2 linked regions of the Homo sapiens genome follow. The protein of the gene in region 2 interacts with the protein of the main gene of each other region in a pairwise test. Each region holds a gene or a part of one and is shown on either strand. Other genes may lie near its edges.

Region 1 (3,500 bases), on a different chromosome or scaffold from region 2:
TTTGGAGCCACATAATCTCTGTCACAACTCAACTCTGTCATTGTAGCATGAAAGCAGTCATAGACAGTATGTAAATGAACGAGTGTAGCTGTGTTCCAATGAAACTTTGTTAACAAAACAGGTCCATAGTTTGCCATTGCCTGGTCTAGGCCTTTTAGATGCACCTTTTTAAAAAAAACCTTTATGGCCAAGTATGTTTAGGAAACAATACCTACCCCACTGACCTAGAATTTTGTGTAACTCTGTTTAACCCGGATTTTCCTAAATGTATTTGACAACCGTGTGCTTTTTTTAAAATGGGACATATACCCTGCAGGATAAATTATGGGAAATCTTGTGGGTTGCAAGTTTGTCAATTTCCACAAATGTTTGGCAAATTTTAGGTCTTATTTGAAAATGTTTGGCAGGCTTGGTGCCATCTCCATTCCCCAAATGGGAAGAGGGCTTGACTTGAGGCTCCAGAGGGTCAGTCTCAGACTCCCCTTTCTGAAAAAATAGAGACTCCTATATGGAGAGTTTGATGGTTATGGTTTGATGGTTTGAAAAGCTCCAGTAAAGCCTACTGCTGGATTTGCCTTGTTAGTTTCTTTCTTTCTTTCTTTCTTTCTTTTTTTAAGGAAATCATTTCGTTCATGCTAGTATTTTACATCTTTGGGATGCAGCAAACAGTATGGAGCAAAGTAGAGGGATGTTACAAGCACATTTTAGGAACTCCAGAACAAATATTCATGAGGCCTTTCCTCAGTTTGGAAGCCTTGACTTGCAGCCTATTTTTAAGCAGTTTTCTGAACTGAGACCCTCCTCTAATGTTATACTGTATAAGGCTCTCACTGATAAATTAATGCAAAATAGGCTTTTCTGCCCCCCTTCCACATCTGAGCCACAAGAGGAGTTTCCCTATTGCAGGGAGGTTAATAACCAGTAGCTCCTCCTTTGCAAATACCAAGAAATTTAAATTTTAGTTTGTTATTCTCCAGTTTATAACAGTCTCTTAATATGGCCCTACTGACTTTTCACTCATGAGGGTAGAACTGGATCCCTTGATGGTAAATTATTGAGAGCCTCTATTTTTTTTCAATGTTCAATACAATGAAGACAGTTGTGCTGGAGAATAGCTATTAAGAGGAAAAGGTTAAAATGAGTAATATTTACGTTTTAAAATAACAATGGTCTTGAAATAACATTTACTTACTTGCACTTAAATACGGAGACTACTACTACCAACACACATGGAAGAGAATAATTGGTATCCTTCACTATTCCTTGAAGAGCCCTAGATTTAGTGCCCATTTACTAGCCAGAAGTCAAGGGTTCAAACCTCTATGAACTTGTTTGCTCCCCTGCAAAACTGAAGTTTTAAAAATGTGCCTGTCCAGTGTCTGAGAATTGTCATGGAACTTCGTGATAATGTCACTAAGTCATTTTATAATCTGTTAAATTTCTTAAAAGTCAAACACGGCCGGGTGCGGCGGCTCACGCCAGTAATCCCAGCACTTTGGGAGGCCGAGGCGGGTGGATCACAAGGTCAGGGGATCGAGAACATCCTGGCTAACACGGTGAAACCCCGTCTCTACTAAAAATACAAAAAATTAGCTGGGCGTGGTGGTGGGCACCTGTAGTCCCAGCTACTCGGGAGGCTGAGGCAGGAGAATGGTGTGAACCCAGGAGGTGGAGCTTGCAGTGAGCCGAGATCGCTCCACTGCACTCCAGCCTGGGTGACAGACCGAGATGCCGTCTCAAAAAAAAAAATAATAAAAGTTTAACACATGACTGCTACTTCTTTGGGGGCATTAAATATTCTTAATACCATCAGAAATAAAGATAGACTCAAAAATCATCTTCATACCTGGAAATCTTAGTCTAGGGATGTTTTCTTGGGAATATTTTTACCAATTAAAAAAAAATTTGAACTCTTGCATGGGCAATTTAAAGGTCTGCAAATTGTGAATAAAGGAATAATAGTTGCGAATAATAACCTGAGAATTATGCAGATACGTGTGTGTTTTTTAGTAGCTTTTTGCTATCTAAAATTATGCTGTTAGTGAATATGATTGTGGTTTGTTCAATTCATACTAAATAGTATATGCCTTTCAGAGTCTGTGGAGATCTTTAAAAGTGCCAACTAAGGGCTGGGTGTGGTTGTTCACACTTGTAATCCCAACACTTTGGGGGGCCAAGGCGAGAGGATCACCTGAGGCCAGGAGTTCAAGACCAGTCTGGGCAACATAACCAGACTCCATCTCTACAAAATAAAAAAAGTAGCCAGGCATGGTGGCACAGCATGTAGTCCAAACTACTCAGGAGGCTGAGGTGGGAGGATTGCTTGAGCCCAGGAGTTCAAGGTTACAGTGAGCCATGATCCTGCCACTGTACTCCAGCCTGGGGTGACAGAGTGAGTCCCTATTAAAAAATAATAATAATAAATAAATAAATAAATAAATAAATAATAAAAACAGTGCTAACTAAAATACAAGCTACCACACACACTGTATCAGCCGATTTTTAAACAGAGTGTGGATGCCACGGGGCAGCTTTGCAGAATGGAATAAAATGGAGTGTAAAAAAGAGCTTGGAGACATGTTATGTGCTAAGAGGAGTGACTCTCTCCATGTTTCCTACAACGTGAATAGAAATAAAGTGTGAACTTCCATCTGACTACTTATTGGTGGGTTGATGAAGAAGCAGATTCATTTCTCTTCTTAGATTTTTTTTCCAAGTGAAGAATGATCTTTTTGGCATACTTCTCATCAAGCTCACCCCAAAACAAGAAACTAACTTAGGTAAATAGATTTAGTTTGCTCAGTCTTTTCCATTTTTGCCACAGAATCTTCCAATACATACATACACACACACAGCCTTTCTTTCAAACAATTGTTATCCTCAAGTAGTTCTGTTCTTCTTCTTTTCAAAATTTATAAGCACCTCGTTATAAGTAAAATGAGAAATGCATTGTAATGAAATGCAATGTAATGTTCAAAATAATTAGCATGCAAAATGCTGAAGAAAAATAGCAATCTGACAAGAAAATGCTACCAATGTATTGAGTTTGCTAAAAAGAGAATGAAAAATATCCTTTATTCTTCAGATTTTCTTATTTCAAAATATGGCCCTGTAAAAGAAAATAGATATCATCATTTAGGCTTGATACAATTAAGGTTATTTAAGATGAACAACAAAAACAACAACAACAAAAATAATTGAAGTTATTTGACGGAAAGGGTAAAATGGCTGAGTCCTATGGCAGCCTTTCCCTAGAAAGACAGTCTTCCATCTCTTCGAAAAGAGAAAAGGGAAGCTACATCTCTGTTTCCGTTAAGCCAGACACAGTCATGGTTAGAATCTCTATGAATTGGTGGACAATGTCATCTCTTTGCTTCTAACCATAGCTAAAGATAGTCAGCTTCTCAAAGACAGTCCCAAGTTGTCAATAAAATCTGGAGCCCATGGCCCTCTCATGGGTTTCCATCAGGACATGTAGTAGGGTCACCACTCACAGTTGG
Region 2 (3,500 bases):
GAAGGAAAAAAACATGATCTGAGCCTTGGAAGAAATAAAAATATTTTTCAGGATCTCACAATTTTTTTGTTTTTTTGAGAAAGGGTATCAATCTGTAACCCAGGCTAGAGTGCAGTGGTGTGATCTCGGCTCACTGTAGCTGCAACCTCCCAGGCTCAAAATATCCACCTACTTCAGCCTCCCAAGTAGCTGGGACTACAGGCACACACCACTACACCTGCCTAATTTTTTATTTTTCATAGAGACGGTTTCACCATGCTGCCCAGCTGGTCTCTAATTTCTGGGCTCAAGGGATCTGCCTATCTCAGTCTTCCAAAGTGCTGGGACTATTGGTATGAGCCACCACGCCTGGCTTGACAGCTTTCATGATGTAATTATTTAATTTAGCCTTACAGTGAACCTGTAAGGCTAAATTTTTTTTTTTTTTTTTTTGAGACGGAGTCTTGCTTTGTCGCCAGGCTGGAGTACAGTGGCGCGATCTTGGCTCACTGCAACCTCCAACTCCCTGGTTCAAGCGATTTTCCTGCCTCAGCCTCCCAAGTAGCTGGGATTACAGGCACGTGCCACCACACCCAGCTAATTTTTGTATTTTTAGTAGAGTTGGGGTTTCACCATGTTGGCCAGGCTGGTCTCGAACGCCTGACCTGGTGATCTGCCTGCCTCAGCCTCCCAAAGTGCTGGGATTACAGGCGTGAGCCACCACGCCCGGCCTGGTTAGTCTTTATTTACATACCCTTAGCTTTCTCTCATTTGAGTTAATATAATTTTTCCAAGTCCCACTGCCTAGCCCACAAGACCATCTTTGTTCTTTCCATGTATGTCTCCATGAAGAGAACACTACCTTCTCAAAAGAACAAGGAATACATATTTGTGCTGTGAAGATTCCACAATGAGGTTCTGGTAAAGTACACTTTGTGACAGAACAGATCTGTGGTAGGACCTTGTATGACTAGCTTCAATTCAGTTAAACATTTACTGAATCTCCACCATGTAGGCACTGTGCCTCCTTACAGAGATATAAAGATATTAAAGAGAGAGTTTCTGTCTTCAAGGACATTATACATTTAGAAAGGGATACAAATGTAAAATAAACACAATACAGTTTAATATGTGCAACAGTGGGAAGTGTTCACATGACAGAAGAGTACAGAGGTCAAGAGTGATATCTAGGCCGGGTGCGGTGGCTCACACCTGTAATCCTAGCACTTTGGGAGGCCAAGGCAGGCAGATCATTTGAGGTCAGGAGTTTGAAACCAGCGGGACCAACGTGGTGAAACCCTGTCACTACTAAAAATACAAAAACGACCCAGGCGTGGTGATGGGCGCCTGTAATCCCAGCTACTTGGGAGGCTGAGGCAGGAGAATCGCTTGAATCTGGGAGGTGGAAATTGCAGTGAGCCGAGATCGTGCCATTGCACTCCAGCCTGGGTGACAAGAGTGAAACTCCATCTCAAAAAATAAAAAATAAAGTAAAATGTAGATACATTTATCCATTGGTGACAGGGGCAGCATGAGAGGATGAAATAGGATAAAAAGTTAAGGTAGCTTGTTGAGAAACAAAGCTAGGGAGATGAGAGTCAGAAAATGGTTTGATTAGAATGCCAAACATCTGAAATCCCTATTGAGAGCAACAGCAAATGGACTGAAGATCGATATTGAAAGCCCAAGTGGGGTTGGATATCATAATTCTGTAGATGCCAGTATACACGGTTGTGTAATATTCTTCAGCAGCACTCAGCTTCCAAAATATAAATTTGGATTTGGCAGCCAGGACCAAAATCTGAGGAAGGATGATGTTGGTATGAAAATAAGCAGAACATTTGACTGTGAGGCCCAGGCTAGCTAGAGAAGGAAATAAATCCCATTGTGGGAGGATAAACGGGGAGAAAGTAAAAATGTAAAGGAATGGCAATGAACTAATTAAGACTTATTTTAAATACAGCCCAGGACATACAGTGCTAAGGAACAGAGTTCCATCTCCCACAAACTTAATGCCTAAGAACAATCAAGCTGTTTTAGTAACTGAGATTTTTGATGTCTAAGTAACAAACTCACCAAACAGTCACGCTGCAGGGTCTTACAGAGAGCGTTGTACATGTCAGCATCCAAAAAAAGACCATCAGGGATGTCTTGTAAGAAGTCTAGGTCTTTAAATGTGGGAAGAGGCTTCTCTCGCTCTTTCTGGGAAGCCCGCCGTTTGTAGGTTGAGCCTTTGAGGTCATATTTGATATGCATTTTTACCGATCTTGGTAAAAGATTGTTCATCACCACAATCCGAATGTTCTTGCCACCTGCCTGCACACAGTACAGTCCATAGAATTTAGGCAGCAAAGTCCGAGGGTTCTGGTTGAGGTTCTGAGAACACAAAAGGAAACAGAAGTAGGAGAACAACTTAGCTGATTTTCAGTGAAACTCACCAGTAAAAGTTACCACCCATCCTCCCTTTATCTCCTATATGAGATTTAGACACAATGTGTCCATAAACCTACATCATATATGCTTTACATTTCCCTATGCATCTATTTCAATGGTAAGTTCACCATCAAGCTGTGCCACAGACTCTCCAATACAGAAATCAGCCAGGATACCAATATAAGATGGATATATTTCTTCAGAGAGATTTAAGAGAAGACGACACTCTCTGCCCTGGGTATAGTATATTCTTGGGGATGGTAAGGCAGGTAAGGAGAGTTACCTAACTTCTCCAGAACCTCCAATAGCAATCAGAGTAAGGCTGCAGAGAGTATTACCAAGGGAAATAACCTACCTCATTCCCCAAACTAGAAGCTGAACTAAGAACAGAAGACGAAAATAGCCAGGTGCAGTGGCTCATGCCTGTAACCCCAGCACTTTGGGAGGCCAAACAGGAGGATCACTTGAGCTCAGGAATTTGAGACCAGCCTGGGTAACATAGCAAGACCTCATCTCTACTAAAAATTTATAAAAATTAGGCCGGGCACGGTGGCTCACGCCTGTAATCCCAGCACTTTGGGAGGCCAAGGCAGGCGGATCATGAGGTCAGGAGTTCAAGACCAGCCTGACCAACATGGTGAAACTCCATCTCTACTAAAAAATAAAAAATTAGCTTGGCATGGTGGCGCATGCCTGTAATCCCAGCTACTCAGGAGGCTGAGGCAGGAGAATTGCTTGAACCTGGGAGGCGGAGGTTGCAGTGAGCCGAGATTGTGCAACTGTACTCCAGCTTGGACAACAAAGCGAGACTCCGTCACGAAAAAATAAAAGAAAATAAGTTTATAAAAATTAGCCAGGTGTGGTGGTGCGTGCCTTTAGTCCCAACTACGTGAGAGGCTGAGGTGGGAGGATCACTTGAGCCTGGGAGATCAACAACACTTAAAACAGAACAGATAAACAAAACCCCTTTTACCATAGAGAGGCAAAAGAAATGGGGTGAAAAGCACAAAACTGAACAACATTTTTTTTTTTTTTTTTTTGAGACGGAGTCTTGCTCTGTTACCCAGGCTGGAGTGCAGTGGCAGGAT

The links. Proteins that work in one complex are often made in the same cells at the same time.
Region 1: the proteins of PIP5K1A (region 2) and CADPS interact in a two-hybrid assay, tested with the Homo sapiens proteins (one large-scale study listed by IntAct).

What each region holds. Positions count from the first base shown.
Region 1 is NC_000003.12:62,487,417-62,490,916, reverse strand, and holds part of CADPS (calcium-dependent secretion activator 1), read left to right. Parts: intron 1-3,500.
Region 2 is NC_000001.11:151,233,052-151,236,551, reverse strand, and holds part of PIP5K1A (phosphatidylinositol 4-phosphate 5-kinase type-1 alpha), read right to left. Parts: intron 2,356-3,500; coding exon 2,056-2,355; intron 1-2,055. UniProt on the Homo sapiens protein: Catalyzes the phosphorylation of phosphatidylinositol 4-phosphate (PtdIns(4)P/PI4P) to form phosphatidylinositol 4,5-bisphosphate (PtdIns(4,5)P2/PIP2), a lipid second messenger that regulates several cellular processes such as signal transduction, vesicle trafficking, actin cytoskeleton dynamics, cell adhesion, and cell motility.